2 linked regions of the Homo sapiens genome follow. The protein of the gene in region 2 purifies or fractionates together with the protein of the main gene of each other region. This does not show direct contact. Each region holds a gene or a part of one and is shown on either strand. Other genes may lie near its edges. The genes, in order: UBE2O and REEP3.

Region 1 (15,713 bases), on a different chromosome or scaffold from region 2:
CCTTTCAGGAGGTCCAAAGTCAAAAATTTTCTATAACAAGACCAAGACGTTATTTGCCTTTTTTCCTCTCATCCTCTCCAAAGTCTGCAGTGGAATTTTCCAGAGGCTACATGATGTGTGATGACGTCACTGCTCTGATGGCCAATAGAATGTATGCCCAGGCATTCTTGGTTTTTAAGTTTGTTTTCTTAAATGGTAGATGTTAATAGAAACAACCCATACAAATAAAAGCTCACAAAGCTAAAAAATTATTGTGGTCCTCAATAATTTTTAAGTTAAAGGAGTTCTGAGGCCTAAGTCTGAAACCACTGAAATGAACTTCCTGCCTCTCTTGCCTTTATGCGCACTGGACTTCCCGCCCAGGACGCCCTGCCCTCCACTGCTGCTATTCCAAGCTCTTATCTTTCAAGAGTGAACTCAAAAGGCACCTCCATGACAGCATCTCCTAATGCTCCCCACCACATCCTTCAGCATCTCAACTGTGTCCTGCAGGTGGAACTAGGCTCTCGCTCCCTTATGTGCATCAGTCATTCACCCACTAATTCCACTCATTCGCATGTGTGCAATCTGCCATTTCCCAAGTGCTCACTAAACAAATCTCTCCTAGCACCTACTTTGGGCCAGTCACTGAGGATATAGCAGTGACAGAGATGCTTCTGTGCTTCTCTTACCTTCCGGCTGGGGACAGTAAACAGGACATGAAGTAGTATAATCTCAGGTAATGCCAGGTGCTATGAGGGAAAAAAGCTGAGTAGGAGATCACAGCGATGGTTCTCTCTCCTATCTAAGTCTCTGAAGCAGTGCTACCCAATCCAGTAGCCACTATGGTAAAAAGAACGCACAGTCTCTCATTAGTACTTATCATATGAGTTATATGTTGATATAATATTTTGAATACATTGGGTTAAGTAAAATATATTAAAATTAATTTCATCTCTTTGTTTTTTTTACTTTGAGACAGGGTCTTGCTCTGTTGCCTAGGCTTAAGGGCAATGGGTCGCACGATCACGGCCCATTGCCACCTCGACCGCCAGGACTCAAGCGATCCTCTCACCTCAGCCTACTGAGTAGTTGGGACTACAGGCGTAAGCTGCCACGCTAAGATGATTTCTGTACTTTTTGAAGAGATGGGGTTTCATCATGTTGCCCAGGCTGGTCTCGAACTCCTGGCCTCAAGTGATCCGCCTGGCTTGGCCTCCCAAAGTGTTGGGATTATAGCCATGAGCCACCATGCCTGGCCTCTATTTACTTTTTTCAGCTGTGGCTCACATTGTATCTCTATTTTTCAGGATCCTTCCAGAGCAGAGGTGGGAAAACTACAGCCTGCAGGTCATGTCCAGCCTACTGCCTGTTTCTTAAAATTTTATTGGAACATGACCATGCCCATTCATTTGCTTACTGCCTCTGAATGCTTTTGTGCTATAATGGCAAAGCTGAGTTGTTGTGAAGGAGACAGTATAGCCTGCAACACTAGGACATTTATCATCTGGCCCTTTACAGAAAGTTTGGCTGGCCCCTTATCTAGAGGGCAGGGCCTGTGTGGGGGTATCTCTCTCCCCACAGCACCCAGCACAGTGCAGGGGGCACCCGTGTAGTCAGTGAAGAGAACCTGCATTCGGGCAGCACAAACTGGCCTAAGTTTGAATTTGGGTTGGCCTCCCACTTGCTATGTGGCCTTGGTGAGTTATAAGCTTTCTCTGGGTTTCAGTCTTTCCTTTTCTAAAATGGGGCACTGGCCACTTTAAGGGAAGTGAGATGACACAGGTAAAGTGTGAGTTAACATGCCTGGCTCACAGCAGGAATCCATTGACACTGGCTGGATAAAAGACAGCAATTTCATTAAAATGCTGAATAATCATTCTCCTCTTGGATTGGGTGTGTTATACTCAAAACAACTACCATATTTACATCCTAAAATGAAATGAAATCAAATGAAACTTCTTAGCAACAGCAGTGCATTAATAATAACCACCAGCAAGCAATGGGGAGGAAGAAAGAGGCAAGCCTTTCTAACACTAAAGCACTGGCGGATGATGAGTCCGCCTCATCCCTTTCCTGCCCCTCCTGCAGCCCACCTTTGGACAATTCCCGGTTCATTAACACTGGCACTAGAAGAATAAGCAGAGGGGAGAGAAAAAGCCTCGAACCAAAGACGTACTAAAACTGAACCCATTGACATCAACGAGGTTTGGAAGGGCCCATATAAGTGCAATTCAAAAGACAGTCCCAGCCAGCAGCATCAATGTCACTGGGAGTTTGTTAGACACGCAGATTCTTCAGCCCAATGGAATTAGGACAATTTGCATTAGGAGACCCTAGGTGATGGCATGTGGCATTCACCTTGGAAAAGTGCTGGATTAGAATCCATTTATTCATGCTCTCTTCACTTCCCCCTCCCCCTCCACTGATAAACAGGGGTGGTTATATCTACTTTCAATAGATGGTTCCTGACTCCTTCAAAGTAATAGGCCTGGCATAGCCACTGCAACTCCAGGCCCCGCCCCCAAGGGTCTTGGTGCAGGCAGAGTGCATAGCCTAAGCTGCGTTCCTGATTCATTTGCAGTCGGGTGGGGCATTCTTTTTCCAATAGAGAGCCTCGTTCGTACTTAGCCATCCTCCTAAGGTGAGGACTGGGTGCTGATAACCATTCAGGAAACCCACGTGTGTGGAATCTGCCATTTGTCAAGTGCTTTAGGCGGGGTTCTTACAGGGGAAATGCAGCCAGAAGCAGCTTCATTTCGACCACAGGTGACACCAGCTCTAGCTAGCTCTAGCCTAGTCCACAATGCACGTAGTCTGCCTGGGGAGCCCGCGACGGAAGTTGCCAAAGTAGTAACTACAATATGGTGTATTCTGATTAATCTGCTCTTCCTAGTATTAGGATGCCCATACGTCCCAGTCCTGGAGTAATTATTCATAGTACTCTCAAAAGAACCCAACTTGGGCAATAAATTACTGTACATGGTCAACACACCTAGTACGGGGGGTGGGAGACAGAGTGGTCTAGTAAGGGGCCCATACAGCTCCAGCACAGACCACAGGGCATCTGGAAGAAGACTAAGAATACTATTTGTAGTAAGTGGGAGGGAGCAAACTGGTCATTCATGAAGATGTTTCCCAAGAGTCTGCATGTGCGTGATAGCACACAAGCTTTAGGATTTGCTGTCTCTGTTTCTCAAGGAGCTTCCCATCCAGGAGAGAATGTGGGTGTGCCATGGGGCATGAGAGGAAGGGAACGGCACAATTGAGTTGGGGAAAAGCAGTCAGATTGGCTGGAATCAACTGAAGAGGCAGGAGATAGAGCAGGATGTGTAGGTGAGGGGCCCTGAATGACAACCAAGGCATGATCAGAGGCTGGGTCCTGACACAATCCAGGCGATCACTTGGGAGGTCAGCCCTTTGGAGGTCAGTTGGCGGCAGCGCTGTTCACTGGTTGAAGGAGGACTAGAGGCAGGGAGACCAGGGAGAAGGCTACACAGTGCAGGCATGAGGCAAGCAGAGAGCAAACCAGGGTTGTGAAAGGGAAATGCAGGCACAGGATGCAAGAGGCCTCTCAAAGAACTGATGACAAGTTAGAATGAGGGCCAAAGAAGGTAAATTAAAAATGACCCCAAATGCTCTAATTTTGAGAAGATTCAAGCTTAGGTATTTAGGGGTGAAGTGCTATCATGTCTGCCACTAACTTAGCAGGAGTTAGTACCAGACATAATTCAGGAGGAAATATATTTACATAAGCATACAGATAAGGCAAATATGGCAGGATGTTAACAACTGCTGACTCATAATGGTTGGGGGTTAGCAATTACTGGCTTTCAACATTTTGGTATGGTCAATATTTTTTCCTATTAAAAAGTTGGGTCTTGGGTTCAGAACCAAAAACAAAAAAAGTTGGGGAATATATATATATATTTTTTTCCTCGAGAAAGAGTCTCACTCTGTCGCCCAGGCTGGAGTGCCGGGGCACGATCTCGGCTCACTGCAACCTCTGCCTCCTGGGTTCAAGCAATTCTCCTGCCCTAGCCTCCCGAGTAGCTGGGATCACAGGCACCCACCACCACGCATGGCTAATTTTTGCATTTTTAGTAGAGATGGGGTTTCACCATGTTGGCCAGGCTGGTCTCGAACTCCTGACCTCAAGTGATCCACCCACCTCGGCCTCCCAAAATGCTGGGATTACAGGCGTGAGCCACTGTGCCCAGTCAGAACATTTTTTTTTTTTTTAAGTCCACAGACTTGGGGATGGGAAGGGCAGTCACAATCACAAGATTTTATACCCACAAAGTCTACATGGCACAATGGAGCTATCAAGTAAGCAGCTGGGCATGTGATGTCACTGTGGAAGTCACCTAAATACAGGTACCAGATGCAGCTACAAGCAGGGAGGTCACTCCAAAAAACTGGGGAGGAAGAGATAAAGAAAAGAGAGGTCTTTGGAAAAGCTGCACATCTATGGGTAAGAGGAAGAAGACAAAAGGCAAAAAAGAGAAACATTTGGTATAGTCTGGTATAATAGAACCCCAAGGAAGGAAATACCGTTAAGAGGGCATGGTCGGCCAGGCGCGGTAGCTCATGCCTGTAATCCCAGCACTTTGGGAAGCTGAGGCGGATGGATCACCTGAGGTCAAGAGTTCGAGACCAGCCTGACCAATATGGTGAAACCCCGTCTCTGCTAAAAAGACAAATATTACTCGGACGTGGTGGCGGGAGCCTGTAATCCCAGCTACTTGGGAGGCTGAGGCAGGAGAATCGCTAGAACCCAGAAGGCAGAGGTTGCAGTGAGCCAAGGTTGCACCACTGCACTCCAGCCTGGGCGACAGACTGAGACTCCATCTCACAAACAAAGCAAAACAAAACAAAACAAAACAAAGAGGGTGTGGTCAGCTAGGCACCGTGGCTCACGTCTGTAATCCCAACACTTTGGGAAGCTGAAGTGGGAGGATCACTTGGGGTCAGGAGTTCGAGACCAGCCTGGCCAATACCATGGTGAGACCCTGTTTCTACAAAAATATTTTAAAAAGCCGAGTGTGTAGTTCCAGCTGCACAGGAGGCTGAGGTGGGAGCACTGCTTGAGCCCAGGAGGCGGAGGCTGCAGTAAGGTGTGATCACGCCACTGCATTCCAGCCTGGGTGACAGAGCATAAGGCTGATGGATCAAAATGAGGACAAGGACTGAGAAAATGTCAGCAAATGCAGTGATCAGAAATTCACTAGTCATTTGTGACCTTCAGGGGAGCCGTCACACTCAGTGGTGTGAGAGGTTAGACAGAAAATGACTGAAGGCGAGAGCAGGTCATGAGGAAATGGAGGCAGACATCCATTTCCCCCAGTACAGTGCTGGGATGACCCAAAAGCACACTGGGGGACCAGAGAAATGCTTTCTTCCTTGGCTTGAAGATGATGTCATCAACCTTCAGGGCCCTCAGAATCCCTTAAATAATAAAACAGTCAGAGCACATGAATACCGGGATGCTTTCAGCACTGCATATGTCAAGCCCTGAGGCTCCCAGAATCCCTGGAGACGTATTTGTGTGTCTACACTTCCCACCTGCACTAGCGGTGACCACACACACAGTCCGGTGACCACACACACAGTCCGCTGAATCTGCCGGTCAAGGTATCTATCTTCAACTGCCCTCTTCCAGAGGGAGCTCCCACAAAAAGGACCAGAATTAAAAGGAGGAGGAAGAACATCATCGGAGCTGCTGAGTGTGAAAAGACCAGCTCTCTTGCAGGATGCAAATGAAGGCCTCTCTTTTTAAGGGTGCCTGCAGGAAATCTCTCTGTCAGTGCTAGCTGGGAATATTCATGTCATTGTTGGGTAGGACTGACTGCCTTTTTTTTTTTCTTTTTCCAAGCATGACTCAGTGTTTTAATTTTTTTTTTTACTTTCAATTATCATAGTCAGACTGTTTCCCAGGTATAGTTATGCTATCAATTTAAACCAAAAGTGACCTGAAAAATGTCTTACTCCTTTGACTTAGCTGCAGAATATTAAATATTGCTGTGGCCTCTCTAAAAATGCAAACCAACTCAAAATCCCCCAACCAAAGAACCAGATTAAACCCAAAAAGGACATTCATTCCAATCCTTATTGCCCACTGAATACTTCTGAGTGGTATGTCAACTGACTGCAATGTTTAAACCATAAAAATGTGCTTTTCACAATACTGCTTCAGGAGAACACAGCCTACCTGTGTCTAGGGGTGACCTGGACAAAGCTGACCCAAGGATCCATCCAATACAGTCAGCCTGGATTGAAGGACATTAAATCCTCAATCACAGAGTATAGCTAACGAATGAAACAAAGGCAAATAACTTGGAGTAGATAAATCCAGAGAGTTATCCAGTAACACAATTCAATTTTATTCTCAACTACAGCAAATTCCAATAAGCATTTTGCTCTTCCCTGGCTATAACTGCACACATCAAGTGGCTCCTGACAGAGTCCCCCCGTGGCTGGCTGGAATGTCAGAAGATGAAGCAATTCCGAACGGGCACTCTTGCTCAGTAAGAGCTGCAAATGTGGATGGGCAGCATTTAGACCATGACCTTCTCCAGGACTGGCACCCATTCATGGGCAAGTGGAGCCTCAGGAAGGAGCTACAGTTAAAAATACCGAGATCCTATTAAGTGAGAAAAGTGATAGCCTCTTGTAAACTGGAAAGCACATTATAGACGTTCCTGATTGTAACTTGCCCCTTTTGATTGTCATTTTAAATCAGCAACTCCCCATCGCCATCCAGAAGCAGGCTAAGCCTTGGGCAAGGAAATTCCAAAAGCTTCCATCAGAATAGGAGCACAGATCATATCCTCCTGGGTGAAAACCCACATGTCACAGAAAACCACCCTGACTCCAACTCTGAGGGGACCGACCACCAGCGGCAGCTGACACTGATCACGTGCCCAGGACTGTTGTGCTGGCAATTCATGTTATACACGACAATTGCACCCTTTTAAAAAGTGCTGGCCCCCAACAGGTTCCACTGGATTCCATGAGCCCCCATGGTGGGTTAAGTAGTAAAAAATAGAAAAAGTTCCTCTTAGTATAACAGGAAAATGAAAAAACAAAAACAAACAAAAAAAAAAACCAAACAAACAAAACAGAGAGAAACAGGGATAAAAGTGAAGTAGAGATGGGGAAGGTGCAAAGAGGCCTCTAATGTCCTAAAGCAAAAACACACGGAAACTGAAGGGAACAGAAACTGAAATTGAGGTGGAACTCAGCCTCTCCAAGGAATCCTTCCTGAACCTGTCTCATGACTCAGCATTCCCAGCCGAAGGATGACAGCAGCAGAGCGGACAGGAGGTCAAGTTGGAGCTCCTAATGGAGCTGACCACTTCTGAGGCAACACAGAAATGCCAGTTACGTGGAGTGTCTGCACACTTGTTTTGCTCTAGGAGGTGGAGTTGGGGAATAAAACTGAACTGCAGTTCAGTGTTGGAATGAATCAGACTACAGAGGTTGCTTCATTCAACATTGAGGGGCAGTCAAAGGTTCTCTAGAAATGCAATGTGTTTTTGACAGTTATTTTGAGAATGACTGAGGGGTCAGGGAATGAAAAGAGTGGAATCTGCAGAAGCACACCGCCAGTGCGAATGCAGTGTTCCTCCCGTCCTGCTCCCTACCCATCATCTCCCTCCCTCCTGCCTGCCCACTGGCACAACTTCCACCTATCCCAACATCCTGTGCCTCTCTCCTTCCTCACTTGTAGTACCTCCTATTACACTAAGACTTTCAACTGTTTAAAGAAGGGATGATTAATGCCAACCACAAGGCTTGTGATTCATGTTGGATCAGGGCACTCGGTCACGTATAGTAATGATCTCTGAATCCTGAACTTAAGTATTCTCAGGTGAGAACAAAGTACATTTAGTTCAATTTGTATTCAGATTCCTCCACTTAGAAGTGTGACACTGGGCAATTTACTTAACCTCTCTGTTCCTCAGCTTCCTTCTCTGGAATATGGGGCTAATAATAGCACCACAGGGTTGTTGTGAGCGTGAAGTAAAACATCTAAAGCACTAAGAGTGCCTGGCACACAGTAACAGTATCCTGGATCATGACTGCTCTTATTACCTTAAAATATAAAGCAATACTCTATCATCTTTGTAATTTATAATCTCATTACCAGTCTTGAGAATTTCAAGAGACCTTTCAGACTCTGGAAACATACATACATACATACAGATTCATTCCATCCCCCTCCTGGAGGACGGCCGGGGTTACTTTAAATGTGCATTACTGAATTTCTCACAAAGTAACAGAGGTAGGAAGTTCATGAGTATTTCTAGAAGAGGTTTAATAAAGTCAAACCTATAATCCATCTGGTCACTAGCAACACGAGCCATTAGGAATTCCTATGCCCCTGAAACAACCACCTTCCCCACAACCCGCCTCGTGCACCTTTTGCTTCCCAAGGTGCCTCTTTGGTGCAGCATCACCCTCTTTCTCATGGAAGTGATCTTCTGAAGGCACAGGGCTGGCTCTCTCTGACAGACATCAGAATGCTGTCTGCTAATAACCAAGTGGCCATCCTAGGCTTGACCCAGCTACACTTCTGGTTATTCCATCCGAGCAGGATCATATCGGGGTTAGGAAGATAGACCTCTTATTTCATTGCAGAGGGAGAAAATGAGGCAGTGACTTGGTCAAGGTCATTCAGAGTAGGTGACAGCCAGGAAGAGCACCCAAGGGTTTTGGCTTCCAATCACAGTACAAAACACACACCCTTCATCTGGGGAAAGTACCCTTGAGTCAGGCAGCAGCCAGACAGAAGCACCATCAGGGCACTGAGGCCCGAGGGCTAGAAGGGGAAAAATCAAGGGACAAAGAATAAAATCACAGAACAGCTGTTAAGAGTCTACAAGTGCTGTGATCCTATCTGAATAAAACGCAATTTAGATTCACTTAGTCCTGCATCTTGGTTAACCTTATATAACTTCTTCACATTACATCACTAAGAACAATTGCTTTTAATGGGCCCAGCACCCAGACAAGTGAGACAAACTTCACGTGCCATGATGCTACACCTAAATAGCTTTCCCCATGGAAATGCTGGCCAGCGTAGGAGCCAAAAATAAACTGCAAAGCCAATTCCCGAGGGACCTGTCATCAGGGATGTTTCACACACACAGCTTCATAAAAGCAGGGTGATCACAGACAGCCCTAATTTAGAGGCACTATATCTCAAACCTGGTGAAACCCTGAATGTCATGGCAACTTAAAACAAAAGACAATGCAAAAGAGATGAAAAAGCACAAGAAAGCTAAAGCATAAACGCTTTGCCTCCGAAACGAAGGCTGAACTTGAACTGACAGACAGCAGTCCTGCTCCCTTACCTCGCAGGGGGCTGTTCTGCCCAACCATGACAGGTGGAGACCAGAAGGACCCACCACGTCTAGCCAGTGCTCATGAAGGTTTAAGTGGCTGCTGGCATTTGGCTTTGTTACAAAATTTTATTCAAAGGATGACTGGTGATGGGGAAGGGGCAAGCCTCCTCTAAGGAGATCCATGGCCAGATGGACAGTTTCAAGTGGCTACCTCGCTGAACAGGTCAGAAGACTGGAGAAAGGAAGAAGCATATAAGAGACACTGGCCACTAGCTCCTTTTGAGTCCTTAAGAGGCTTAATTTTGGTGGCTGGAAGCCTCAGGAACACGACAAATTCCATAGCTTCATGGAAGAACTTACTTTGTTTCTGTTGCTATTTTCATGAAGGCAGCAGGGAAAGGACATGACTTGCTGCCCAGTCTCTTCATCTCTCTTTGTAAATTTGTTCACTAAAAACTTGAGACTAAGATTAAGCCTTTACTCATTGCCCTCCAATTTACAGAGAAAACTACAAAAATACGCCACACCCTATGAAACACTCCACATTAAATAGATACTACTAAAAAATTTCAATGGGGCAAGGCACTGTGGCTTATGCCTGTAATTCCAGCACTTGGGGAGGCCAAGGCCGGTGAATCACTTGAGGCCAGAAGTTCAAGACCAGCCTGGCCAAAATGGCAAACTGCCGTCTCTACTAAAAATACAAAAATTAGCTGGGTGTGATGGCGCATGCCCATAATCCCAGCTATGCGGGAGGCTGAGGCACAAGAATCACTTGAACCCGGGAAGTTGAGGTTGTAATGAGCTGAGATCGTGCCACTGCACTCCAGCCTGGGTGACAGAGAGAGACTCTGTTTAAAAAAGAAACTCACACACAAAAATTTTCAATAGGTAGCAGCTTATTAAAAAAAATAAGTTTCGGGCGGGTGCGGTGGCTCCTGCCTGTAATCCCAGCACTTTGGGAGGCCGAGGCGGGCGGATCACCTGAGGTCAGGAGTTCAAGAACAGCCTGGCCACCACGGAGAAACCCCGTCTCCACTAAAAATACAAAAAATTAGCCGGGCGTGATGGCGTATGCCTGTAATCCCAGCTACTCGGGAGGCTGAGGTAGGAGAATCGCTTGAACCCGGGAGGCAGAGGTTGCGGTGAGCCGAGCTGGCGCCATTGCACTCCAGCCTGGGCAACAAGAGCAAAACTCCGTCTCAAAAACATAAATAAATAAAAAATAAGTTTCTCAAAACCATCACTACTGTAGTCCCAGCTACCTGGGAGGCTGAGGCAGGAGGATTGTGTGAGACCAGGAATTCAAGGACACCTGAGTAACAGTGAGACCCCATCCCAAAAATAATAAACAAACCAGTAACTCAAAAAAAAAAAAAAATCTGCCACTACATTATTTTGTCAATAATTGGGTTCTCAAATCTCATAACTAGATTAGTCAATCTTGGTCTAATGGTCTTTCCTTTACGGCATACTATCACCTTGATGGAATTCATAAGGAGCAGGAGGTGAGAAGAAAAATCATCCTAAGCCACAGTTCTGCAAGGTCCCAGGACCCACCCTACCACCCTGCTTGGTGGTCAGTAACAGACCAGGAGACATTCAGCTAATCAGTCACCTGTATCTATAGCTCATGGTAACAGAGCTACCTATCAGGTATAAACTCCACCCTCCAAAACAAACCTATTCTAAATCCTAAAAGAACTATATCTTGCCACCCATAAATGGGCATCCCATTCCACCACTTCCTTGGAATTTCTGCGTCCCTTGGCTTTTGCTAAACCCAGATGCTACAATGACAAAATACCACCACCGAGCCACAAAACGGATTTCAACAAATTCAAAGCAAGTCACAGGAGGCCAGCTGCAAAATCTATCCAAAGTGGTGCCTCAAAGTTGTTGTTTTTTTTTTCTTTTCTTTTGAGACAGAGTTTAACTCTTGCTGCCCAGGTTGGAGTGCAATGGTGCCATCTCAGCTCACCGCAACCTCCGCCTCCCTGGTTCAAGCAATTCTCCCGCCTCAGCCTCCCGAGTAGCTCAGGTTACAGGCATGCGCCACCAAGCCCAGCTAATTTTGTATTTTTAGTAGAGACAGGGTTTCTCCATGTTGGTCAGGCTGGTCTCGAACTCCTGACCTCAGGTGATCCGCCCGCCTCGGCCTCCCAAGTGCTGGGATTACAGGCATGAGCTACCACACCCGGCCGTTGTTTTCGATTTAACTCCAAAATAGGTATTTCAAGTCAAACTCTGTATAATTACACATAGTGCAGGAGGCAAACGGAGCATAACTGCAAACAAAGTTAACCACCAAAGTCAAGACGGACGGGAACAACAACTGATAAACATAGCGGCTCCCAGTAGTGAGCTGGGCCTACCTCCCTGAGTCCTAGGGCAGGAGGCCACAACACAGAGGATGCTGCAGTCAAATGAGTTGCGTTCCAAAAATCACGAATCTCTCAAATAGATGGGTGGTGAAAAACATTCTTAAAAACTCACAGAAAGACACCAGCAATCATCTGGTGTCACACAGTATACAGCAATAACCCTCTTTTACTGACACAATACTGGGTAATTTTTAACAAGCATTCTGTTGCACAAAAGTAATATTTTCCAAATACTCTTGTAAATGGACTGATAATTTTCCTTCCAAGTCTCAGAGCTGTTGCCTGATTCACATTTCTCTGAGGGGAAGCAGGGTCCTGTGTGTGGATTTGTGTCTGTGGATGTATGTGCATCCCCAACAAAAAGACCCCGCTGGTATCAGCAGTCACTTCTGCCTCTAGGAAATGGATCATGTGCTCTTCTCTGGAGTGGGGCCTTTTTCCTTCTCAAGCCGTTGTCACAGACCCCGCTTTGTAGTTTGACATGAAACCCCGTTCCTCTGTAGTCTTTGTCTCCCACTGTGTGAGAAACCCAGATCAACTTCCAAAGTGCCCTCCCCTGAAATCAGACCTCTCAACCTCCCAAGGACCTAAAACAGCGTAGGCCTGATTCCTGCTTAGAAATGTTTTCTTGAAGGGGAGGGGAAGTAGGAGAGAAAGAAGGGGTGTGAGATACAGGGGGGTGTGTGTGTGTGTGTGTGTGTGTCAATTACTGATAGGAATTCACATTCTGGAAAACAAGCCACCAAACCAACCCGGGTTCAAGGTTTCGGGTTTATGATGACAAGCCTCTTTGTTTTGTAAAACTGCTATACTCACTAGCATCACCCCAAAAACCATACGGGAGTCAGATGTCTGCTTAACAGCTTCAGGTCAAGAAAAAACCTTCGGGTTTCCAAATTGGTGACTCCCCTCTACCCAGGGTTCTGGATTATTTTTTTCAAGGAGTCCATATGCACTTAGGAGTCATCAATCCCGGTCGCAGCTGTCAGAATCCTCCCCCCCAAGTACTATTCATACCGGGGCTCTGATTGCTAATGATTTTACTCACAAAGTTCCCTGCAGCAATTAAAAGGAGGCAGCAGGGTAAAACAAAAAGAGGCTGGGTGGCTTCACCATAATGCAGCCTGTAAGCTAGTGAACTTCTTGGGTTCGGCTGGGATTTTCACCTCTATCTTTGTTTTGGAATGCCCACAACCCCTCCCTGCACGGACCCGGCACGGCCTTCATTTCTGGATGCACAATGCAGTACCGAGCTCCTTGGGGGTCAGCAAAACGCCGCACTGGTGTAACGCCGAACGCGCCCCAGAACCTGAGTCCCCACGGGAGTCGGTCCACGTCTCTAAATCTCGAGGCCGACACCACAGCATAACATGTCTTAGAAGTCCCCTCAAGTCGGGAAGCCCAGGGCCCGCCCGGTCCCGGGCCAGCAGTGCCTGGCTGGCGTGTGCGCCCAGAGCTGCTGCAATGACTTTGCATGGAGTGTACCCTCCACTGGGGCTGTCCTCCCGCGTCGGCCACTGCAGTGGCACCGCTCCGGGCAGGGCCCTGCACGCCGTCCTTCCCTGGCCTCGGCCCGGCCGCCGACCCCCTGCCGCCCGCGCCGCCCAGCCCCCGCCCGCCGCACCTTGGTCTCCTTCACATGCTGCTTGACGCCCTCCGGGTACCACTGGACGCGCACGTAGCCGCGGCGCAGGGGGCTGGCCCGGCCCTCCTCGTGGCCCGCGCCCCCGGCCTCGGAGCACCCCGAGCTCCCGCGGCCCTCCTCCTCGCCCTCCGAGTCCGAGTCCTCGCCGTGGATGAGGCGCACCAGCCCGAAGTGCACGGAGCCACGGTAACGGCCCGACACCAGGTCGTGAGAAAACAGCAGGCGCTGCGAGCCGGCTTCTGGGCCGGAGTCCGAGGACGGCCCGGAGGCCGAGTCCGAGGCGGGCGCCGGCGCCGGGACGGGGGCTGCGGCTGGGGCCGGGACTGCCTCCGGGGCTGGAGCCGGGGCCTGGGCTGGAGCGGGAGCTGCGGGCGTGGGGGCTGCGGGATCCGCCATAACTGCTCTGCGCGAGTCTCGGGCGGCGGCGGCGACAGCGGCGGCGAACGAGGCGCGGGGAGGCGGGACCAGCGGGCGCCGGGGGCGGGGCCATAGCGCGCTGACGTGTCCCTGCGTGGCGCCGTCGTCAGGGAGCCGGGATGCAGTTGCTAGGAGCCACCGCCTCGTCGCTAGGGGACGCTGAAGATGCCGCGGGGGGCGGGGGCAGGATGGAATCCACTAAGAAGGGGCGAGACCAGTGAGGATTCAACTAAAGGGAGCGAGAAGGGGCGGGGACCCGGGAGGAGGAAGTGGAGTGGCCACCGAGGAAGAGGGGAGTGGTCGGGGTGGGGCACAGGATGGTGGAGAGACTGTCAACAACTTTTAATGAGCTCCCTTGGCGTCCTAGCCTAGCCCCCAGGCACTGGGAGCATTGCAGAAAGAGAAAGATACTGTCCCTGTCCTCTAGGTGTTTCCAGTCTAGTTGGGGAGACAAAACAAATACACATTAAATAGATAACAAACAACTCCAACTTGTAAGGCTATAATAGATACGTGTAGAGCATATGTATAATGCACTGTATTCAGGAATTCCAAGCAGTTCGAACGTCATGACCCCTCAGAAGTTGACCCAGAAGCTGGTGAAGGAGGCCCAGAGAAAGGTAACAAAAGGATCAGTGGTCCCAGTGGTTTGGCTACAAATCCATGCAGATAAATTCAAAGCTCCCTGAAGCCAAGAATGAATGGCAAGAGGTAGTATAGTAAGGTAGCTAAGAGTGGGGACCACGGATTCCAATTTTTGGCACTGCCACTTACTAATCTATAAAAATAGGCACACTGATTAACTTATTTTCATCTTAATTTGCTCATCTGTGAAATAGGGATGATAATAGCAATACTCATCTCATTGGGCAATTGGAGGATTAAGTGAAGTAGAACAGTGCCTGGCATTTAGCTCCTTCGATAAGCTTAACCATTGTTGTACTATTTCCAAACTCCCTGCCTAGACTAAATTCCAGACTGGCAGAACTGTTATGGTCTGCTCCATATTGTCATTTTAAAATATAAAAAGTAGGCCGGGCGCGGCAGCTCACACCTGTCATCCCAGTACTTTGGGAGGCTGAGGTGGGCGGATCACGAGGTCAAGAGATTGAGACCATCCTGGCCAACATGGCGAAACCCCATCTCTACTAAAAATACGGAAAAAAAAAAAAAATAGCTGGGCGTGGTGGCACATGGCTGTAGTCCCAGCTACTCAGGAGGCTGAGGCAGGCAAATCGCTTGAACCTGGGAGGCTGAGGTTGCAGTGAGCCCAGATCGCGCCACTGCACTCCACCCTGGGCAACAGAGCAAGACTCTGTCTCAAAAAAATAAATAAATAAAAATAAATAAAATATAAAAAGTAACTCTAGGGCCAGGCGTGGTGGCTCATGCCTGTAATCCCAGCACTTTGGGAGGCAGAAGCAGATGGATCACCTGATCACCTGAGGTCAGGAGTTCAAGACCGCCCTGGCCAACATGGCGAAATCCCTTCTCTACTAAAAGTACAAAAATTAGCTGGGCGTGGTGGTGTGCACCTGTAGTCCCAGCTACTTGGGAGGCTGAGGCAGGAGAATTGCTTGAATCTGGGAGGCAGAAGTTGCAGTGAGCCGAGATCATGCCACTACACTCCAGCCTTGGCAACAGAGCAGGACTCTGTCTCAAAAAACAAAAAACAAAAAAAAGGCTGGATGTGGTGGCTCTTGCCTGTAATCCCAGCACTTTGGGAGACCGAGGCGGGTGGGAGACCCGAGGTCAGGAGTTCAAGACCAGCCTGGCCAAGATGGTGAAACCCTGTCTCTACTAAAAATACAAAAATTAGCCGGGCGCGGTGGCAGCCGCCTGTAATCCCAGCTACTCGGAAGGCTGAGGCAGGAGAATCACTTGAACCTGGGGAGTGGAGGTTGTAGTGAGCCTAGATCGCGCCGCTGCACTCCAGCC
Region 2 (15,713 bases):
AATTCTTTTTATCTTCTGATTATTATACTTTATTAGTTATCTAAGCAATGTAACTGTTGACGTTTTTTACTCTCACTGGGCAACAATCCTAGTGCTGGCTTCTCCCATTGCACCCTCCTTCCTTGCCCCAAGTTAGAAAGGAATTGAGAAAACAGCAATATGAGTTTCTAATTAGCTTTTAAAATTCTATATCCTGAGGATATTTTAAATAATTTAGATACTTTTCACATAGAGAGAGATAAAATTATTATCAGGAATGGTGAATGTAATAGAAATGGACATTCAACCACCACTGTGGATAATAACTGAATCTTGATAGGGTGATGATATGTGAGTGTACACATCTGATGAAACACATAGAAATTATTATATATAAATTCTATCTCAACAAGGAGGATTTAAAATAACAGGTGTAAATTATAGCACATTAAGGTCTATGTCCGGAGCTCAACTGCCATATAGCTTTGCTACTTGGCAGCTGTGTGACCACTTTGGGAAGTTATTTCACATTTCTAAGCCTGAGGTTTCTCATTGGTGAAATGAACATAACAGCAGTACCTGTGTCATGAAGATGGTTGTGAAACAGAAACAAATTAGTTTGAAACTGCTTAGAATAATGCCTGATGCAGAATGAGCATCAGATACATGGTAGGCTATAAAACATGTAGACAAATGTTATCTGTTGCTTCCTCTATGGTTTGTTGTAGGGTCTGAAAAATTCTTCTCTACCAAATTGTGATATTCTCCTACCTTTTCTTCCAAAAGTTTAAGTGCTGTACTTTTTACACTTGGGCAGATAATACATTTACGATTTATTTTTGAGTCTGCTGTGTAGTAAAGATCTTTATTTTTTAATTTTTTTTTCTGAGAGATAACCAATTATCACAACACTATTTATTAAGTTAGGTATACTTTCCCATTGATTTTGAATTCTACCACTGTCATATCAGATTCTTTGCAAGCTTGGGTTAATTTCTGGATTTGTTACATGTTCTATTAAGTCTACTGTCAATCACAGCAACAATACTACAAGGTTGTAATTCCTACATTATAATAAATCATGACATGTAATAGTGAAAGTTTTTATTCCTTTTTCTTCACAGTTGTCTTCTTGATTCTGGGGCTTTTGCTCTTTCATATGAACTTTATAGGTAATTAGCCTATCAGGTTCCATGAAAACAACAATAAAAATCCTGTTGGAATTCCATTAAATTTATAGACTTTTTAGGAGATGAACTGATAATCATTAATTAATATTGACCCATTAACATAAACTATACATTTATTCAGATATCCTTTTATCTTTCAATCATGTTTTATACTTTATAGTTCTTTTCCTTCCAGTATTTTAGTCTGTCTTTTAACAGGAAGATAAAATTTGTTGATATTTATTGTTATTATTGATATATTTGAACCCATTTCTACCATCTTTTTTTCCCCTTATGTCTCTCTCACCTACTTGACCCCTTTATTTTGGCCTTCTGTATCTCTTTAGCCTCCTTTCCTCTCTTCTGTTAGTTTTGAAACAATAGATTATATTTCTAATCTTTAAAAATTATTATTTCTCTTCACATGACAGAGACCATACCATTCTCTTCCTACTTTTATTGAGAATGAAGGAAAAAGAAAAACCCAGAGATAAAGGTGAGGAAAGAATAAAAGAGAAGCCAAGTGACAGTGATGGCATACTTTGCAGTGGGAGAGCATAATTTTAGACCTCAAAGGAAAAACTGACTGCTTTCCTTTCTCATACAGTTCCTGCCCTCATCATACACTTAAAAAGTGTGTCTAGGCAGTGTCACTTGTAGGGTTATAGGTCATTTCATTTTCAGTATTTCCTTTATATTTATCAGTCATTCAGGAACTCAAGGTCTCTATTGTAACCATTACTTTTAAAATGGCTTACTATCCTATATTTTTCTGATCCTAGTTTTAGGTGAGCTATTTTAGTTAAAGCACTGTAAGACTTTGTCACCAGCAAAAATCTGAGGCAATTGGGTACAGATTTACACAGAGACAATACATCTGTATCTTAAACTTATAGGAAACCAATTGAAACAAGGCAGTATTTGCATCCTATTTACCACATAAAATATTCAAAACTGGTTGTAGTGGCTCACGCCTGTAATTCCATCACTTTGGGAGACCAAGGAAGGAGGATCACTTGAGGCCAGAAGTTTAAGAACAGTCTGGGCAACATAACAAGGCCCTATCTCTACAAAATATAAAAAATTAGCTGGATGTGGTGGTGTGTGCTTATAGTTCTAGCTACTTAGGAGGTGGAAGCAGGAAGATCGCTGGAGCCCAGGGATTTGAGGTTACAGTGAACTATGACTGTGCCACTGCACTCTAGCCTGAGCAACAGAGGGAGACCCTGTCTCTAAAAAACAAAAAAAAAATAAAAAATAATAATACTTCAAGATATAACATCTAGAAATTCTTAAGAATTATTTCATCATAATAAGCATAATCTTTGTGGACAAAAAAGTTTATTTCCAATTTAAATTTCTCATTTTTACTTAGCAAGGAAAGATCAGGTTTTTTTTAGAATATCTCTACACAGAACTTTCTGACTATTTTTCTCATATAACTTTATTTCACACCTTAATATTTTCAGGTTCTTTAAGATTTACATACTTCCAGGGCAAGCGCGGTGGGTCATGTCTGCAATCCCAGCACTTTGAGAGGCCGAGGTGGGCAGATCACCTGAGGTCAGGACTTTGAGACCAGCCCGGCCAACATGGTGAAACCTTGTCTCTACCAATAATACCAAAAATTAGCTGGCATGGTGGTGGGCGCCTGTAACCCCATCTACCTGGGAGGCTGAGGTAGGAGAATTGCTTGAACCCGGGAGGCGGAGCTTGCAGTGAGCTGAGATCGCGCCACTGCACTCCAGCCTGGGAGACAGAGCGAGACTCCGTCTCAAAAAAAAAAAAAAAGATTTACATACTTCCAAGGCTCTTTCATGTGGACTTATATAGGTATATCTTTAAAGAGTACTTTCATTCACTCACGATCCATTAAACATCCTAAAACCATTATCATTTCTATTTACAAAATTAACTTAGGTATACAAAGTTAAAACAGAAAGTCCCTATATTTCAGAAAACCAGAAAAAAACTACGGTTGATGAAAATTAATAACCAAAAATATAATGCAAATAAAAAGGACTGAATGAACAACTTGGAAGTGTGTTCAGCAATAGTGAGATTGATCAGCTTCCTAAGCAGAAAATAAAGACCACAGCCACAAACCAGTGAAGAACTGATCATGACAATAACGGTATCCATTAGGCAAATATCACCAAATATTCTATTTTATTTCCATATCTGCACTTTCTTCATGTCAACACTCAAGAACGACTAGGCTTGTTGTTCCTGTGGGCCTCTCCAAGAGTCAGTTTGCCCACTTCACAGTTTTGGTGAAAGTGCATTCCACATTTTCTATCTGATCCTCCACAGGAAGCATACAAGCAGTATAGTTTAAGATCTTCAACTAGGGTTCTACCCTGCCTTTATGCCTCTAGTGATGGTATACACACTGCACTCATGATGTTGGCAGTTTCAAAGTTGAACAATTTTAGACGTTATAAAGTTTTCCTCAATATATGGAATAAAACTGGCTTCCTTATAAGACCTACCTTTAACCTTGGATTCACAATAACAGAAAAATCTGTCCCCCTTCCCCATGTGATGACTCTAAGACAGTTAGTTTGTTCGACATTTTTTCTCCTCTTCTTTTTTATGAGACAGGGTCTCGCTCTGTCGCCCAGGCTGGAGTACAGTGGCACGATCCTAGCTCACTGCAGCCTTTACCTCCTGGGCTCAAGGGATCCTTCCACCTCAGCCTTCTGAGTACTGAGTAGCTGGGACTGCAGGCGCATGCCATCATGCCCGGCTAATTTTTGTACTTTTTGTAGAGACAGGGTTTCACCATGTTGCCCAGGCTGGTGTGGAACTCCTGAATTTTTTTTTCTCCTTTTCTTTTTTTTTTTTTGACGGAGTCTCGCTCTATCGCCCAGGCTGGAGTGCAGTGGCGCGATCTTGGCTCACTGCGAGCTCCGCCTCCTGGGTTCACGCCATTCTGCCTCCCTTCGAGTAGCTGGGATTACAGGCGCCCGCCAACACGCCCGGATAATTTTTTGTATTTTTAGTAGAGACAGGGTTTCACCGTGTTAGCCAGGGTGGTCTTGATCTCCTGGCCTCATGATCCACCCACCTCGGCCTCCCAAAGTGCTGGGATTACAGCACTTTATTTCTTTATTTATAGGTGAGAATAATTCTTTCCTAAAATGAACACATCATTACTTGAAAGTGTTAATGCTCTCGGTATTAATATATCTGAATATTTCCTAAGATTATGTTTTGAATTATTGGTTAGCATAAACCTATTTTGTTTAGATTTGTCCTATGACTTTTACTTTTATGATTTCCTTGATAGTTTTGATTCTGCAGAGTCAATGACACTGTTAATAGTTAGGAAAAGCAACATAGTGATAACCTTCAGCTCTGTATTCTAATCCTAATGTCTTAATCAATTCTAAGACCAGGAAAAACTATAACTTGTAAGTCATACTTCATTTACAGGCTAAAAAATATGGATTATAACACCTGATGTGCAGAATACGTGAGTATAAAAATATTTGCAAAGTGTACTATATCAGTATTTTTCATCAATTTTTAGAAATTCTCTGTAAACATAGGAATTTTGAAATAATAAAGATTGTGACAGATTGATCAGCAACAGTAATTTCTTTTCTACAAGTAGCAACAGTATTTTTATATAGAATATTCTTAAGCCAGAGCTATCCTAAGATACTTGTGAATTTCCAAATATCATTATAGAATTTCTCTCATAAAATACATAGAAGCAGCAAATAGAAAATAGCACAGCCATTTTCAGGTGGAGATGCTGAGCGGACTATATCTCGTAAAGGATCACTTCAACAGAACTCTGCGATGATAAAAATGTTCTATTTTTATGCTGCCCAGTAAGGTAGCACAGAATAAGATAAGCATTCACATAGCTACTGAGCACTTGAAATGTGGCTAGTGTATTGAGAAATTTAATTTTTAATTAATTTACATTTAAATAGCCACACATAACCATATGAGATAGCACAGTTTTTAGCCTCATGCCCTCTCCATATATATTTTTCTTCCCTTTTTACTTAACACAGTGGTTCCCAACCAGTGGCAGTTTTGCCCACTAGGTGACATATGTCAATTCCATATCTGGAGCCATTTTTGGCTGTCACAACTGGTGGATGCTGCTAAACATCCCACAATGCACAGGAGAGTCTCCCACAACAGAGAATTATCCACTTAAAAATATGAATAATGCTGAGGTTAAGAAACTGTGATATATTAAAACATCTTCAAATGAAATGAAAAGTACTTTGAAAATAATTATGAATGGCTATATAACATTCTAACGTTAGCTGGTCTGCTCATTACATAAAATAATCTCTAACCACTGTTGGATAATTCCATCCTGATTGCTACTGTTTTCCCTGTTCACAGTGTTTTAGTGAGTATGCCATCTCGCCTGATTTTCAGTCATAGTGGCCTCTGTAAATATAACAACATGAACGAAACTGGTAAATTTACTTCAGTAATAGGGGTAAGTATGCATAAACCCTTAACAGTTAGTTTTGTAAACATGAACAATTTTATAACAAAAATTTTTATCTTTAACCTCTCATTTACCTCAAAAGTTGTATGAAAGGATTAGTTTAGTGCAAATGTGTAATCAATGACATAAAAATAAGTTCATGTTGTTATGAATCAACAGTAACCTTTTTCCATGAAATGATCAAAACAATAACATCTTTTAAGATATTTAAAATACCCATTTATGCCACTATTGTTGTAATGTACCATTTATTTGAACAGTTTCATCTATACTTAAAGTACATAATATAAAAATCTCCATCCTAAAAGGGTTTAAAATATAGTGGAAAAAGAAATAGCTAACAGAGCAACAGTAACAAAAAATGGACAAAAGCAAATTGTTTTTGAAATGCAGGCTAATAAAGGAATCTTGTTGGAAGTTCTAGCCCATGCAGTGAAAACAAGACCCAATAGTTTAGAATGTGTTTTCTTTCTTAATGAAAGAAGACAGAAAAGATGACCTCTTACAGGGCATTTCCTACATATATTTTTAAAATGTCAACCTTTTAATTTTCTTGAAAACATCATTGTTCCTATTTACCTGATTTCTCATTGTCTAATAGCAATGTATCTTATTCTTAGATACAACTCATGAACATGTAAGCTATTCACAATGGATCTCATAAAAAATGGTAAATAAAGACAAAATCTACCTTAACCTAATTGAAAGAAAATATTTTAGCTATCATTGAGATTTTACAACCAGTTAAAAAATTTAAAGCACATATAAAGGAAGAAAAATATCACTCATATAATTGTGACTGCCTTCAAACTTCCATAAGGATTTAAAAATGAGGATTTTTTCATTAATCCTATCATAAACTTAACAAACATATACCCTAACAAATGGTACATTCTCTTGCTATATTATAGCAAAGATGAATATAAAAATGACATTCATCAGGGCGCAGTGGCTCATGCTAGTAATCCCAGCACTTGAGGAGGCCAAGGCAGGTGGATCACCTGAGGTCAGGAGTTGAAGACCAGCCTGGCCAACATGGTGAAACGCTGTCTCTACTAAAAATACAGAAATTAGCAGGGCATGGTGGTGGCCACCTGTAATCCCAGCTACTCGGGAGGCTGAGGTAGGAGAATTGCTTGAACCCAGGAGGTGGAGGTTGCATTGAGCCGAGATTGCGCCATTGCACTCCAGCCTGGGCAACAAGAGCAAAACTCCTCAGTCTCAAAAAAAAAAAAAGAATCACATTCATGGCCGGGGCAGTGGCTCACAGCTGTAATCCCAGCACTTTGGGAGGCCAAGGTGGTAGGAATGCTTGAGGCCAGGAGTTGGAGACCAGCCTGGGCAATATGGCAAGACCCTCATCTCTACAAAAGTAAAATAAAAAAATTAGCTGGGTGTGGTAGTGCATGCCTCTAGTCCTGGCTACCTGGGAGGCTGAGGTAGGAGGATTGCTTGAGCTCAGGAGTTTGAGGCTCCAGTGAACCAGGATCATGTCACTGCACTGTACTCCAGCCTGGATGACAGAGTGAAACCCTGTCTCTAAAATAAATAAATAAATAAAATAAATAAAAGAATGACATTCACTTCCAGTCATATTATTCTGTTTTCTTTCCTATATTTGTTAAGGTATCCAATCCTACTTCCCTATCTATCTCCAGAACAATTTTAGCTAGGTTACCAAGGTTTAAAGAGATTGTTTTTAGTAACAGTACAAATGCAGAGCCTTTTCTCTTTTCCCTATCTGGAATAAGTGTGTCTGGAAAGAGGCTCATTAGTGAAAAAAACTTTATTCAATGCTGAGATCCTTTCAGTCTCTCTTTCCAAATAATTCATTCACTGCAGCTTTCATGAGAAAAATTAATTGTGAAATAAGCTCTGGAGGAGGGAAAAAAAGGCAGTCCCCAAATTCATGAGGCATAATATTTACTATCAATAGTTCTGTGATTTATAGTTCACATTCATTTTTTTCATTCTCTTACTGCGGAAAATATTTATTGAGCTTCTTTTGTGTGCAATGAACATATTAGAGAAAAGACTTCTCTCATGGAGACTATTTTCTAGTTGGAGAGGACAGATGATAGGTTAAAGAAGTGAAGTACCAAATACTACAGACAACGGAGCGGGGAAGGAAAGCAGGAGTGCTGGGGTCACTGAGAAAGTGAACACCTGAAGGAAGCGAGGGAATGAGGCAGGAGGGTATCTGTGGGAAGTGCACTGAGGCAGGGGCCATCAAGTGCCCAGGCTCTCAGGTCTTACCTGGAGATCACAGATCTCCACTGTGTTGGAGATCACTGTGGCTGGAGTTATAATGGCAGCGGGCAGGTAGAGACAAAGGTTTGAGATGGAAAAAAGTCCAGATCATGTCCTGTTTGTAGACCATCATAAGGACCTGGCTTTCCTGAGTGAGGCAGGAAGTCATCTGAGGGTTGTGAGCAGACGAGTCACATGACTTGACTTGGGTTTCAACAGGACTATTTTGGCTGCTGTTGAGGAGGGACAAGGGCAGACACAGGACACTATGCCACTACAACACATTTCAGAGATGATGCTGGCTTGGACTAGAATGGTGTATGTAAAGGTGGTGAGTACAGGATGTATTTTGAAAGCAGAGTCAACAAGATTTGCGGATTCAATGTAGGGAACTAGAGAAAGAGAGGAATCAAGGATGGTATGATCCCAAGGTCTTTGGCCTGAGCTGCTAGTAGGTGGAGCTGGCATTAACAGAGTGGGGGAAAGCTGCCAGAGGAGCCAGATGGGGAAGGAAGCTCAAGAGCCTAGTTTTGGATGTCTTAAGTTCAGTCTGACTTTCAGATGTTTCCACGTGGAGCAAAGAACGCAGCTGAAAATATGATCACAGAGTTCAGCAGAGAGATCTGGGTTGGAGATGTAAATTAATGGGAATCCTTAAAGGACTACAAATAGAAAAGAGAAAATGGTCTAAGGACTGATCCCCATGACATGCCAACTTTAACAACTTTAAGAAGTCAAGGAACATGGAGAAATGTGCCAGGTAGGCTGAGAAGGGAGTGGCCGTTGAGTTACAAAAACAAAAAAAAAAAAAACAAAAAAAAGCAAGGTTTCTTGGAAACCAAGTGAAGAAAATACTTCAAGGAGAAAGTGAGCAATTGTATCAAAAGCTGCTGATAAGTCAGATGAGGATCAAACAGTTTGGCCAAGTGGCGGTCACTATTGATCTGAGAAGGGCAATTTCAGTGGAGTGGAAGGAGAGAAAAGTCTAAACAAACGTATGGGTTCCAGAGTACCCTGAAGGAAAGAAAGTGAAGATGGTGTATAGACTATCCTTTTTTTAAAAAAATTATTTTTCTTTTTTTTTTGAGACAAGGTCTCACTCTGTTGCCCAGGCTGGAGTGCAGTGGCATGCTCATGGCTCACTGCAGCCTCAACATCCCAGGCTCAAGTGATTCTCCCACTTCAGCATCCACAGTAGCCGGGATTACAGGCATGTACCACCACGCCCAGCTAATTTTTTTGTTTTTTGTATTTTTTGTAGAGATGGGGTTTCACCAGGTTGCCTGGATTGGTCTGGAACTCCTGAGCTGAGGTAATCTATACGCATCAGCCTCCCAAAGTGTTGGGATTACAAGCAAGAGCCACTGTGCCCGGCTTGGACTATTCTTCTGAGGAATTTTTGCTCTAAAGAGACAGAGGGAAATGGGGTGATAAGATGAAAAGTATAGTAGATTAAAAGAGTTTTTTTTTTTAAGATGGGAGAAGTAATAGCATGTTGGTATGCTGTCGAGAAAGATCTAGTAGAGAAGAAAAAAGAGATGAAGCTGAAAAGAAGGGGGAAAGCTGCTGAAGTATGGTTTTTAAGGTGTATAATTTAGCCTTTGAAGACATCCATTATAGCACCCAATATAAATGAAGAGAATCAGAGAAAAATAATTGCGGGTTTTAAGAGTACTGCCAGACAATTAAACTAAGGTAAAACAAAAATGTATTATCATTGTAAAAAAGGGAAATATCGATATATAGAATTGAAAAGGAAGTCTCCAAATTAATCCACTTCTACATAGGAAAGTAGTACTTATCAAATATCTGTAGTATCTAATTTTACATTTAGAAATGATCAAGAAATCACAAAATAAAAAACAAAGAAGGCGAACTATATTAAAACTATAAACTCTCTATGCAACCAAGAATAAAATATCTAAAAGAAAACTGAAATTAGATTGAGAAACACATTTGCATGAAATATCACATAAGGTTAATTCCTTTATTATGTAAAAAGCTCAGACAAAACAAGTAAATTATCAAGTAACCAAGAGATAAATGGGCAAAGTATATACATACTGTATGCATAATATATATAATTAATAAAAATCTGGACAAGCATTCAACTGTGCTGATAAATAAAATACAAAAGAAAACAATGAGATATGTTATATTTATTGGTAAAGTATTAAAAAATTAAAACTTCCGATTCTGGCTACATTGTGATAAAGAAAGTACTCACACATTGCTGCTAGCATGTAAAATATTAATATTCTTTTGGAAAGCAATCTGGCAATTCATATCAATGATCATAAAAATATTCAGTGTTTGACTCAGAAATATTCCTCTTGTATTTTTATCCCAAAGAAGTATGTACTTCAAAAGAAGTATATATAATGTCCATTATAGCATTATAATTGCATTTCAGCATTACTTATAATAATGAAATATTAAAAATTATCTAAATGTAAAATTAAATACAAATAGATGAATGGCTAAGAAAATAATACTGGCCTGATCAAACAGAAGATACTAAATAGGATTTCAGAGCAACATAGAAGATGCTTATAAGATTTCAGAGCAACATAGAAGATGCTTACAATATAATAAAGACTAGTATAACATTTTTACTATACTCTAATTAAAATTATGTTACCTACACACAAAGTGATTCAAACAAAAAATGTATATTGAAGATACTTCAAACATTCAGCATGCTGGGATTTTAGGAGAGCATGTTTTTCCTTTTTCTGATAACTACTACTAGCATTTACTGAATGCTTACTATGTGCCAGATGCTGGACTATGGACATTACATATAGTAATGTATTTAATCCCATGGGGTAGGTTATGACGCATAAATGGCAGAGTTAATAGTTGAATTTGGCAATCTGGCTTTTATCTTGATCTTAATCACAATGCTAGATCATAAAAACAAATTAAGAAAAGTTAGGGAAAAAAATGGAATTTCCCTCAACTTATGAGAGTCATGTTTCAAAAGGTGAGGTGTGGATATCATATATGAATGGAACATCATTGGTAATCTCAAACTACTATCCCTTAAAAATTGGTAACTATTCATGCCTGTAATCCCAGCACTTTGGGAGGCTGAGGTGGGAGGATCACCTGAGGTCAGGAGTTCAAGTCCAGCCTGGCCAACGTGGTGAAACCCCGTCTCTACTAAAAATACAAAAATTAGCTGGGCATGGTAGCACATGTCTGTAATCCCAGCCACTTGGGAGGCTGAGGCAGGAGAACTGCTTGAACCCGGGAGGCGGAAATTGCAGTAAGCCAAGATTGTGCCACTGCACTCTAGCCTGTACACCAAGAGAAAAACTCCGTCTCAAAAAAAAAAAAAGTAACTAATCTGTCAATCTTGCCTGTGATGTTAAAGTAAGCTGAGATTGAACAGACTGTAAGTAATGGAAAAATACTTTCATATCATCACAGAATGCTAAGGCTGGACAAAAGAGCTTGGCGGTTATCAGGTCCCTTTGCCTCTTCTAAGAAATAGAACCAAGGTCTATAATCAGCAAGAGACTGCCTCAGGGTCATTCAGCTGGTTAAGGTAACCAAAGCCAGTTCTGAATTCCAAGTTTCTTGGTAACAATCCAGTGATATTTCTTCCTACACCATTTTACTCACTTCCCTCATAAAAAAGCTATCTATATATCTATTACGTTTTAAGTGCACACTCAATGCCAAGCACCACACTTCCACGTTTTAGTTAAACTAATTTAATCTTTACAACAGTCTTTTTTTTTTTTTTGAGACAGAGTCTTGCTCTGTTGCCCAGGCTGGAGTGCAGTGGCACGATCTCAGCTCACTGCAACCTTTGCCTCCAGGGTTCAAGTGATTCTAGTGCCTCAGCTTCCCTAGTAGCCAGGACTACAGGTGTGCGCCATCACGCCCGGCTAATTTTCTTTACAACGGTTTCATGTGGTATTTATTATAATGACTTAAAGGCAAGAAGACTGAAGCTCAGAAGGGTTTAGCATGCTGCCCAAGACCACGCAGCTGTAAACAGTGGTATCCAGGGCCAGGTGCGGTGGCTCATGGCTGTAATTCTAGCACTTAGCGAGGAAGGTGGGCGGATCACTTGAGGCTAGGAGTTCAAGGCCAGCCTGGCCAATATGGTGAAACCCTGTCTCTACTAAAAATACAAAAAAATTAGCCGGGTGTGGTGGCGTGCACCTATAGTCCCAGCTACTTGGGAGGTTGAGTCATGAGACATGAGAATTGCTTGAATTGGGAGGTGGAGGTTGCAGTGAGTTGAGATCACACCACCGCACTCCAGCGTGGGCGACAGAGAGAGACTCTGTCTCAAAAAAGAAAAAAAAAAGAGTGGTGTCCAGGGCTAATTTCTCTGGTGTTAAAGTGCAGGATCTTGGGACAAAGTGCTTCTACATACAGGGTGCTTTGGTTATGGAGGTTCCCTGCCCATGCTACCAGAGGTTCATGTTGAGAGAAGGGTCTGATCTTGCTCAGGAGGAGGTGGTTGTCTCAGTGGGTTAGAAAGAATCAAGTAAATTCTACCTCCTGGTGTGAAAAAGGTTTCCAAGTTTGTGTAGATCCTGTGATTGCTCTTTCATGTTTAGAGAGAGAAACTGAGTAAAGAGGAAAAATAGAATGATGTTTATATTCTCTACAAGTGTGCTTTCTAATGTGCTAATGTGTTCACGGCTCACAAAATAACAGTTCCTGACACTTGAGAAATACATTTCTTTTCATGACATTTTCTTCCTCACATTATTGCTCCCTGTCGTTAGCCTCAAACCTTACATTCTGTAGCTCAAGTACTTTAACTGGAGAGAGGCTTTAATCCCCTCTCTCCAGTTAGGGAGCCTCCTAAGGAGTCTCCTTGTCTTCCAGGTCTCCATTGCCAATCATTTCACAGAAGGGCAGAGAATCTTCCAAAGCAAAGCTGTTGCTGCCTTATAACATTTACCCCTTCTTTCTTGAAAACAGGCCCCAGGCTACCTTTCCAGCTTGCTTTTTCCCCACCCGAGTCCCTCACGCCCACTGTAACTAATCTGGGCTTTTCCTCCTCTGGGCTTTGGCTCACGCCGGTCCCTATATCTGGAATCCTTTCCTTTTTCATCTTTGGCTGCCTAGATTCTGTCCATTCTTTTTTGTTTTTTTTCTGAGGCACAGTCTCACTCTGTGGCCCAGGCTGGAGTGCAGTGGCACGATCACGGCTCACTGCAGCCTTGACCTCCTGAATTTGAGCGATCCTCCTACCTCAGTCCCTGAGTAGCTGGGATTACAGGTGTGAGCTACTGTGACTAGCTAATTAAATTTTTCTTTTTTTGTGGAGACAAGGTCTCGCTATGTTGCCCAGGCTGGTCTCTAACTCTTGTGATCAAACAATCTTCCCTCCTTGGCCTCCCAAAGTGCTAGGATTACAGGTGTGAGCCACTCTACTGGGCCTATTCTTTAAGGCCCATCTGAAACGTAATCTCCCTTGCCTTTTCTGATTCTCCAACCAGATATCCCTTCCTTGTCCAACACTGGGTATTAGAGTGGGTGTAACTTTTACAAGAGTTGACATTTGGACCTGTACTGCAGATATCTGTGCACCCAAACTGTCAATTCCCATGATCAACTACGTGTTACTGACCTTTGTGTTATAGGTAGCACCTAGAACAGACATTCATATTCATTGGCAATTATGAAAAACAAAAGTCTAAAAGTGCTTCACAATTTTCTGTCAGCTGAAGAACTGGTCAAAGAAATCCAGAGGCTTTTTTTTTTTTTTTTGTAAAGTACAGCTTCTTAATAGGGCACTTGATTTTCTAGGTGTGGACACAACAGTTGATAGACATCTACTAGGTCAAGAAAGGTATGCCTGAATTAGATAAATGACAGACTCAAAAGAGAGGCCAGGAAAAGGCTGAAAAACAATCTGAAGGCATCTGTGGTATCCTTTTGTTTATATCTTGATTTTTAGTTTCGTACAGGGGAACACAGGAAGCTCTGAGGCTTTAAAACTAGAAACTTTGCGATTTAATCAAATGAAAAATTTTGAATGCTGTGCTGCAAATCTGATTAAATAGGGCTAGTAATTCACTTCCAAACAAAATAAACCCCAAACTCAGAAAATCTAGCTCCTTTTAACAAAAAGTCTGGTAATGTTATTTTTCCTAAATTCTAAAGCTTATCAGAGAAGCCTGCCCCCTCACATAAACATTTTTTCATATACCTTTATGAAACCTTCTGAGATAACACTACTACAGAGGTGAATAATGAATTCATAGGCCCTAGCTGTAACTACGTCATTGTTTACTTGGTGACTTTTTTTTTAATCGGGGAGAGGGGTAAAATGGAGATGAGAGAAAATCAGTTTAAACTGTATTCAAATACATTTACACGATTAACACCACCAACTCAAGGAATTTCTTTTTCTTACAGACCTGTAGCACTTGTTGGTAGGAGAACAATGAAATGAACCCATAATTTGAACAAAGGCAACAGGCACCTGCAGCCTTTCAATCACTTAGCAAATATTTCCGCCGAGACAGGGCCGAATTCGGGGATCTGGGCGAGCAGCCGGTGTCACCTTTCTCGGTAAGCTGCAAATCTTGGGAAAACTAGGACCCTTCCCAGGGATCCTGGGCTGGGAGCGGTCTCCGGTTTTTAGACAAATCTCTCCTCCTACCACACGTGACCGAATGGCAATCAGCCGCCAAGAGAGACACCGCAACGCATCAGCCGCGGGATACAAAGGCTCGGCACTGCCGTCGCATCCTCGGGAGGATCGCGGAGCCTCCCGCGCTCGGCGTCTGCGGAGCCTGCGCAGGGAGCAGCTGCGAGGCGCGCCGCTCCCGGGCCCGCAGGGCGGTGCCGCGCTGCGCGGGGAGCAGGAGCGGGGAGCGCGCGCCGCCTGCCCTGAGCGCCTGCCCACCCAGCGCCGCCGGAGCAGGGGCGCCGCGCCGCACCGCACGCAGCCGAGCAGCGCCACAGCCGCCGCCGCCGTCGCAGCCGCAGTCGCCGCAGCTAGGCCCTCGGCCGTCGCAGGGAGCTCCGCAGCGACGTGGACCAAGGTGAGGAAGCCGAGGGCTCCCCCAGACCCTCGGCAGGCCCGAGGCCGGGCTACCCCGTCCCCGCCCAGGCCCAGGCCTTCCCTTTCCTCTCGGCTCCTTCCCCTTCCCACAGCTCCCCTGGGCCTCGCGCCGGCTGCAGGGCGCAGTGAGAGGCACTTACACCACGGCTCTGGAGATCATCCAGGACACCATCTTCACGGGGGCTTGGGCCCCACGTCCGGGGCGGGTGGGCGCAGGGCGCTGCGGACCAGGCCGCCAACGGCAGGCCGCGCGCTTCGCCGGCTCCTCGCGCTCCCCGGGGCCGCGCTGGCGCCCTCAGGAGCCGGGCCCGGTGTGTGCGCGCGGCGGCCTGGGCTGCGCAGAGGTCGGTCCCCCGCCCGTCCCCGCCCGCCCCCGCCCGCCGGCCCGGCAGCCTAGTCCGGACAGCACCCCGCCCCTGCGCTCCGCTGATAGGCGGTGGCGGCGGCGCGTTGGCCCGGGCCAGGGCTGGGGCCAGGCGGCCGGGCTCCAGGGCTGGGCTGGCGGGATCCTAGCCCGCGCTGGACGGCCTCGCTGCCGCGGCCTTGGCCCCTGCGCTCTAACCAACCTTACCCTCCTTAGCTCTTTGGGACGCCCACACTCGCGGCGAGAGTGGGGCAGGAGGCTGAGGAAGGGTACTGGAGGGTAGGGATTGGCAGTGCCTGTGTGAAAAGTGAGATATTCGCAGGAACTCGGTGTCCAATAAAACTCTCGACCAGGCCCTGGTTTTGGAGAGCCAAGACTTTGAGGTGTGCCTGGCCACATCCGGTATCCTCAGTGTTT

Evidence for each region.
Region 1: the proteins of REEP3 (region 2) and UBE2O purify together in Homo sapiens (co-immunoprecipitation; 2 studies listed by BioGRID and IntAct, with this or other methods). This does not show direct contact.

The regions. Positions count from the first base shown.
Region 1 is NC_000017.11:76,439,388-76,455,100, forward strand, and holds the start of UBE2O ((E3-independent) E2 ubiquitin-conjugating enzyme), read right to left. Parts: upstream 13,766-15,713; 5' UTR 13,755-13,765; coding exon 13,338-13,754; intron 1-13,337. UniProt on the Homo sapiens protein: E2/E3 hybrid ubiquitin-protein ligase that displays both E2 and E3 ligase activities and mediates monoubiquitination of target proteins. Negatively regulates TRAF6-mediated NF-kappa-B activation independently of its E2 activity.
Region 2 is NC_000010.11:63,520,937-63,536,649, reverse strand, and holds the start of REEP3 (receptor expression-enhancing protein 3), read right to left. Parts: upstream 15,250-15,713; 5' UTR 15,105-15,249; coding exon 15,073-15,104; intron 14,913-15,072; exon of another isoform or gene 14,760-14,912; intron 1-14,759. UniProt on the Homo sapiens protein: Microtubule-binding protein required to ensure proper cell division and nuclear envelope reassembly by sequestering the endoplasmic reticulum away from chromosomes during mitosis.